Homo sapiens: one gene and its partner. The protein of the gene in region 2 purifies or fractionates together with the protein of the main gene of each other region. This does not show direct contact. Each region holds a gene or a part of one and is shown on either strand. Other genes may lie near its edges.

Evidence for each region. Proteins that work in one complex are often made in the same cells at the same time.
Region 1: the proteins of ZFP57 (region 2) and SMARCAD1 purify together in Homo sapiens (co-immunoprecipitation; one large-scale study listed by IntAct). This does not show direct contact.

What each region holds. Positions count from the first base shown.
Region 1 is NC_000004.12:94,287,865-94,291,792, reverse strand, and holds the end of SMARCAD1 (SWI/SNF-related matrix-associated actin-dependent regulator of chromatin subfamily A containing DEAD/H box 1), read right to left. Parts: intron 2,321-3,928; coding exon 2,259-2,320; 3' UTR 501-2,258; downstream 1-500. UniProt on the Homo sapiens protein: DNA helicase that possesses intrinsic ATP-dependent nucleosome-remodeling activity and is both required for DNA repair and heterochromatin organization.
Region 2 is NC_000006.12:29,678,353-29,682,383, forward strand, and holds the start of ZFP57 (zinc finger protein 57 homolog), read right to left. Parts: upstream 2,801-4,031; 5' UTR 2,710-2,800; intron 1-2,709. UniProt on the Homo sapiens protein: Transcription regulator required to maintain maternal and paternal gene imprinting, a process by which gene expression is restricted in a parent of origin-specific manner by epigenetic modification of genomic DNA and chromatin, including DNA methylation.

The sequences.
Region 1 (3,928 bases), on a different chromosome or scaffold from region 2:
AAGAGTTAAAACAATCCGAATTCCTTAAATTTATGGACTGTGAAGTATCACACGTAAGGTCACACAAATGGAAACCAAATCTCCTCATACCCCGTCTCTCCACTACACGATAATGCCAACTGTTAGGAACTACAGTAATGTTTCAAAGTAAGTATCTACTGGCATAAAGTTAAAACTCTATGGGGGTCCCAAACAGTTATAAAAATGCATAAGGCATGTCTTCTTTGTGTAGCTTGCATTTAAAAAATGCTTCAGTTGGTCAAGATATTACTCCAACTCTCGCTTCATTTGCTCTGTAGTGATAATGGGTTACAGTATTTACTGACATCAGTCCAATGAAGGAACCAATGAGAATACATCCTAAGTAGTAAGTTCCAATTTACTGGCAAACAGGCAATATTAAGCACATAAGATAATCTCATTTGTGCCCAATATTATATGATTTTAAGGGTAGGAGGAGGAAGGGTTAGAAACTATTAAAAAGGGTGTGAAAATACAACTTATGATCACAAATATTTTTATTAAGCCCAAGACATAATAGCGCATTACAGGAAGAACCCAACTACATTTCATTAGAGATAAAAGTATGGATATAACAACAACAACAATAACAACAAAAAAAGAAACAGCCTATCATTGAAAATACATTAATACAGAAAACATGAGATATCCATTATGAGATTTTAAAAGGTAAAATTCCTAACAATTTGAATAACTGATTTGGGTATAGTGATGTACAAGGAGGTAGTATTAACACATGAAGACTCCTTTTAGCCCTGTAATGGTAAAATATATTCAGTCTGTTCAATATACCATCAAGACTGGGGTTAAGCCGTGAGTTCTCAGTCTTTAATATCTAAATAATCACTGTAAGAGTTTTATTTGCCTTCCAAATCCAGAGGGTCGTACTACCTAGCATCTTAGCAAGTTAGGATGCTTTGAAAAGCATGATTTCCAAAAATTAACAAATCTTTGATTTATAAATAAGTTTATTTATAATGATATTTACATAATAAAAACAAAACACATGGAACTCACAAGTTATACAAAGAAACTGATGTATAATAAAAACAGCAATATAGACTGACAGGCAGAAATTTAAAGAAAGATTTAATAAAGAGTTAAATATCAAATAGACAACTTCACTTCTAAATTTCACTTTGTCACTCACACTGAATTGGAATTGAACAATGGCTCTCTCTTCAGGCGGTCCTGTACTGGAAATTCTGGAAACTGGTAAAATATATTTTGATAAGAGTTTCAAGTTAATGACCTATTTCCATGCAGTACCTAATGCTGCCTTTAGATGAAGTCACATTCAGTCTGCTTTGAAATGAAATAGCTTTAAGTAATCTGTTCTGCCAGGCTAGAAAAATGTCACCAACATTTTGCTGATGCATGGAGATGTGGCAGTAATAAACTACTATTTAGAGAGGAAGAGAATTGGAGCAGAAGTGACTGGGCAACAGTTTCAAGAGAAGCAAAAGCCGGGAGAGGGAAATCAATGAAAACATGCACAAGATTAGGCAGAGTAATATGCACAATTAGTGCAGTTGGAAAATGAACAGAAGGAATTAATCCATGGAGCAAGGTAGGGGCTTCTTTAGTTACTATTCACTGGAAAACAACTTAGTGCCTAGCCAAATAAATTTGTTTCAGCAGAAGTACTTGAGAGGACCTGGGGGATGTTAGTATATGGAATGCCACCTTTAAATTCAGGTTGAGTTCTTGCTGACATTGGTGAACATCTGCTTCAAATAGCAATAAAATGAAAGCTATATAATCTATACAGCTGCATTCTTTAACATAATAAAAAAGAACTTCAAATGAGACAAGCAAAAACAAGACATAAGCATTGTCAAATAAGGCACATGTAAAAATCTACACACATTATCCAGTGAAAGACAATATATATATATTTGGAGGTAGAAATAATTACAAAAATACTGACATTTCTAAAGCATTAGCATATTTGTTACAAACAATCACCAACTAATCCCCATTCAGAAAACTGCTTTGTAAAATGATTATTCAACATCTTCAGAACTACATATTTGTGGCTTCTTTTTTGAAATTTCACGTGTGAGTATTTGGAGAATTCAGTTAGTGGCAAAAAGTTGTCCATACTATGAGAAATGTAATATGGAAATTATAAAAAGTTATAAATGTTCATAAACCCCATGGTCATCATAATGTAAATGTCCTTGAGTGCACCAAGTTGATATTTCCTCATCAATTGAGAGTTCACAGTTCTTATTTCACAGGCCCATTGATGTTTTTAGTAATGTGGCTATATCTGCTGGCATACTCCCTTCATCACCTGTAGGTCAGAAAGTAGCATTAAAAGCTTTATAAAAATATTTTACTTAAAAAAAAATTGTCTCAATTATTTTTTTTCTTTGGTGAATTCTTACTCATCTTTCAAGGGCTAGTTTGCTTCAGTGTCACTCACCCCTGTTAAAAACTTTCCTAAGCTCTACTTAGATTAGGGCTATTTCCTCTATGTTCTTGTTCATATTGCCAACATAGCAATCTAAGGTTATTTTTCCAATTTTATAAAGCTATATAAAAATACACGGTAATACACTGGATCGTATCTAATTCATGGTACTTAACTTCTCACATTTGCTAAATAAAAAACATTTATGTAAGAAATGGAGTAGGGAAAACAAGGATAACAAACCCAAACCTAAACCAACGAAAACCAATCTATATTCTTATTTTTCATCTAAAGATATAATCACTGACTCAGACCCACACTGTATACATATAAACAACATTCTGAGCACAGCATACCAGCTGATGATTAAATTAGCCACTTTAAATTACCTGGTTTATCCAATGTTTGCCCTATATTTTAATTAAATGAGGCCCCAGTATAAGCACTTACAGGAATTATTTGAGATTTTCTAAATCTCTTTGTGTCACAGTGGCAGATAATCTAGCCATCCCTGATTAATTCAATTTAGCACTGAGAATATTTTGAGATGAGTTGATTAATTTACTAGTTAGTGACAACAGCACAGGTGGCAATTCAAATATTTGCTGATCTGTGATAGATCTGTAACTATGAATAATTTTATAAATTAGATGTGGCTGAAATGTAGCAAAACTAACCACTTCTCTCCTCCTCCCCTCTCTCACAAATATACACCTCAGCTATAATCTAAAATTATGAGTACTTTCATCCACTCTTCTTTTCTCTGTTAAAAAAACAAAAAACAAAACAAAACACATATATCCACAGGAACACAAAATAGTACATCAACTCTTAGGGATGTCAGTTCACTGACATCCTTGCTTCCAAGCTCATCCACAGACTTGAAAATAGCCCATAAAATCCAAATTGACACTTCATAAATTACTATATAAACTGATACTATGTTAGGAAGAATGCAGGGAGAAGAGAAAAGAAGGAAAAGAATAAGGAGATTCTTTTAAACTTGAAGATACTAAAGACAGAATACAATAAAATGCTGTGTGTGAACTTTGGACCCTAGTGTTTTAAGGAAAGCTATAAAAGACATTAAGGGGACAAATGAGAGAAATCTGGATATGAATAATATATGATAATGTCTGAAAATTACTGTTTATTTTCTTAGATGCTACAATGGTATTGTACCAACTTTGAGGAATATGCTGTGATATTGAAAATAAATTGCCATGTTTACAATTGACTTTATTATGGATCAATGGGAAAAAAGAAGTAGAAAAAACAAACACTGCAAATGTCACAACTGTTAAATCGCTGTATTTTTCATTCATACTATACTTTCAACAATTAAAAAAATATATATATATTTTAATAGAGATGGAGTCTTGCTATGTTGCCCAGGCTGGTTTTGAACTCCTGGGCTCAAACGATCCTCCCGCCTGTCTCCCCAAGTGCTGGCATTATAAGCATGAACCACACGCCCAGCCACTGCTT
Region 2 (4,031 bases):
CCCATTAGTTCCTTAGTAGCTAGCCATCTCAGTTACCAGGTTGACTACTGTAGTATAGCAGTTGCCTGTGCTCAAGAATGCCTTATTTTACTTAATAATGACCCAAAAGCACAAGAGTAGAGACGCTGGAAATTCAGATATGCAAAGAGAAGCCATAAAATAAAAAGGTAAAAATTCTTGTCTTAAGGAAAGAAAAAATAATCATATGCTGAGGTTGCTAAGATTTACAATATAAATTATTTTGAGAGAGATACCACATTCATACAACTTTTATTACAATATATTGCTGTAATTGTTCTATCTTATTACTAGTTATTGTTGTCAATCTCTTACCATGCCTAATTTGTAAATTAAACTTTATCATTATTATGTATGTATAGAAAAAGAAAACCATAGTGTATACAGGGTTTGGTACTATTCATGGTTTCAAAGTATCCACTGGGGTGGGGCGCGGTGGATCACTTCAGGGCAGGAATTTGAGACCAGCCTGGCCAACATGGTGAAACCCCGTCTCTACTGAAAATACAAAAATTAGCTGGGCGTGGTGGCACGCTGTAGTCCCAGCTGCTCAGGATGCTGAGGCAGAATTACTTGAACCCGTGAGGTGAAGGTTGCAGTGAGCCAAGACTGTGCCACTGTACTCCAGCCTGGGTGACAGAGCGAGATTCTGCCTCAAACAACAACAAAAACAAAGTATCCACTAGAGCTCTTGGAACATATCACCTGTGGATAAGGGGAACCACTGTATATACAGATCTTTGTGAAGAATACTGCTAACAACCCAAGAGCAATCACTTATTCAGGGCTCACAATGAGCCCAGCACTGGAGTTCCCTGCTCATCCTTGGAAATTTCCTGCTCAGATGCAAACATAGCTGAACTCTCACCTTTTCCTGCTGACAGCCACTCACCCACATCTCCCTTACTAGAGATAGAAAGAAAAGAATAAAGACCAAAAAACCCTGTTGACTATTTTTTCCTTTCACTTTTTGAGAAGTGTTAATAGAACTGAAAATACCAGCAAGGAAAAACGCCCTCGAGGAATAGAGTTAATTGGATCTCCAAAATGTTGTCATGAAAGGTGCATTCCTGGGATATGAATTTGATTTCCTTCCTTTCTTCCTCTCTCTTTCTTTCCTCTCTCTCCCTTTCCTTTCCTGTCTTTCAAAACCATTCGCACTCCTTTTATGAGGCATGCAGATCTTGGATTATTCTTCCACTTTCCAGCCAACTGCACTTCAAAACAGCCTTAATAAGGCTGGGCACGGTGGCTCAGCCTGTAATCCCAACACTTGGGGAGGCCGAGGCGGGCGGATCACCTGAGGTCAGGAGTTTGAGACCAGCCTGACCAACATGGACCTCGTCTCTACTAAAAATACAAAATTATCCCGGCGTGGTGGCGCATGCCTGTAATCGTAGCTACTAGGGAGGCTGAGGCAGGAGAATCGCTTGAACCCGGGAGGCAGAGGTTGCGGTGAGCGGAGATCGCGCCATTGCACTCCAGCCAGGGAAATGAGAGTGAAACTCCGTCTCAAAAACAAACAAACAAACAAACAAACAAAAAAAAACGCCTTAGTAACAGTGCCCTCAAGAACCTGGCCTTCCAGTTCTCTGGCAGAGAAGACCTACTGCTGCCGCTAGTCCTCAAGATGGCATTTGCTGGAGGCGGTAGGCAGAGGCCCTAAGTGTGGATTCTAACCCCCGTGGGGACTGAATCTCTGCGGCTGTTGCTTGCCCAGGCACGTTTGCCTCCCATGAACTTCCTTCATCCACAGGGCCCCAAACCTCATGCCGGCGGGAGGAGGAAGGAGACTGGGCATAACTCATCAGACTTTCGACTGTAAGAGCTGGAGGCCGCCTGCGGGCTTATCTGTACCCGGGCCTGTCCCCACCCTTCCAGAATGTAAATCCTCTGAGGGAATGTGTCGTCGCCATCTTTCAGTCCTTTGAGTGCACCCAGTCTCTCTCCAACCCAAAACCCTTTATCCACAGCAATTCTGAGAATGATGAGAATCCCCCTCACCCCTCACACCGCAAACAGTTGCAATGCTTAGTGGGATTCACCCTTGTCGTCACCAACCCTGCTACTCCAGCCACGTGAGTTTTCCGCCTGTCAGCCAAGCAAAATGGCCTTCCTGCAGTCGCACGGCCCTTTGGTCTCTGCTCAGGGCTTCGGGGACCCTTTCCAGCCATTGCCCTGCACCTACCCACCAGATCGCCGCCCTGGTGGGCGCTCCTGGCCCTGTCCTCCGCGCTTAGTTTGTCATTGGGCGCCCAGATCCGGAACCCCAGCCTCGAAGCTTCCGGTGGCCGGGAACAAAGCCGGTTTTGCTCACTGTCGCCTGGCAAAGCAGGCGCTTGTTAGCACCCACTGAATGCGCTTATGTGCTCAGAAACGGTCCCATTGGTTGGGACTACCTTCCCCGATGCCCATCCGCCCAGAATCTTCCTTCTGGGATGCCGACTTTTTCAACACGTGCCAGGAGCCCTTCCTCGGCCCGGAATCCCCAGAGTGCCCACAGTGGACAGGGCACCTGGATACACCCCAGACTAACCCACGTTTCCCCGGAGGACCCCAGAGGTTGGAAGCCCCTCCAAGATTAGGGGCGCAGTGCTCCCCTGGCCTGCGGAAGAGTCAGAGGAGTGGGGACAACATCCAACATCAGCCTCTACTACCGCTAGCGCGACTCCCCGCCGCCGCTCTACTCACCTGACGCGCGCAGTGGACCGCGATTTAGGGGCACAGGGTCTCCCGGGGACCAGCGGCTGGAGCGCTCCGGCCGAGCACCCGCAGTCCCGGCGCCGCGGCCCCACCCCGGCCCCGCCCTCTTCCGCTCCCTCCCAGTCATCAGGCCACCGAGAATGTGCCCCTTGACCCAGATGAGAGGGTGAGCCCGCCAAGGTCAAGCTTCCCATCCTAAGAATCACAGACAGCCCGGCCATGCACCACCACTTCGAGCCTCCGACCAACTGATAGCTGCTGGTCCCAAGTAGCGCTAGGATTTTCGCTTTCCCAGTCTTAATTGACTCTAAAAGAAGAAGAAAAAAAAGCCTGGGCGCGATTGCTCACACCTGTAATTCCGGCACTTTGGGAGGTCGAGGCTGGTGAATTACCTGAAGTCAGGAGTTCAAGACCACCCTGGCCAACATGGCGAAACCTCGTCTCTACTAAAAGTACAAAAATTAGCCAGGCGTGGTGGCGGGCGCCTGTAACCCCAGCTACTCAGGAGGCTGAGGCAGGAGAATCGCTTGAATCCGGGAGGTGGAGGTTGCAGTGAGCCCAGATCACGCCACTGCACTCCAGCCTGGGCAAAAAGAGTGAAACTCCATCTCAAAAAAAAAAAAAAAAAAAAAAAAGAGGAAAGTATTTACGAAAAAAAAAAAAAAAGACCAAAGTATTATGATTAAAACACGCGGCTGAGAGCGGTGGCTCACACCTGTAATCCCAGCACTTTGGGAGGCTGAGGGGGCGGATCACCTGAGGTCAGAAGTTCGACCTCAGCGTGGCCAATATGGCGAAACCTTGTCCCTATTAAAAATACAAAAGTTAGCCGGTGGTGGTGACGCACACCTGTAATCCCAGCTACTTGGGAGACATTGCCGTTACTGGGCAAGTGTTCTTTCAAGAGCATCTTATCTGAATTACTATAGTACTAAAGAATGTCTAGGCTGGGCCCCCGTGGCTCACTCCTGGAATGCTAACACTTTGGGAAGCTGAGGAGGGAGGATTGCTGGAGGCCAGGAGTTCAAGACCAACCTGGGCAACATAGCAAGACCCTTTCTCTAGAAAAAATGAAAACAACTTGGCCAGGTGTTGTGGTACATGCCTTTAGTCCTAGGTGCTTAGGAGGTTGAGGTGGGAGGATTGCTTGAGCTCAGGAGTTTGAGGTTACAGTGAGCTATGATTGCACCACTGCATTCCAGCCTTGGCAATGGAGTGAGGCCCTATTTCTAAACAGAACAAAAAAAAAGAATGCCTGCTGATAAACCTTGTGACAGGACATTCATGAAGGATGAAGAAAAGATTTCTTT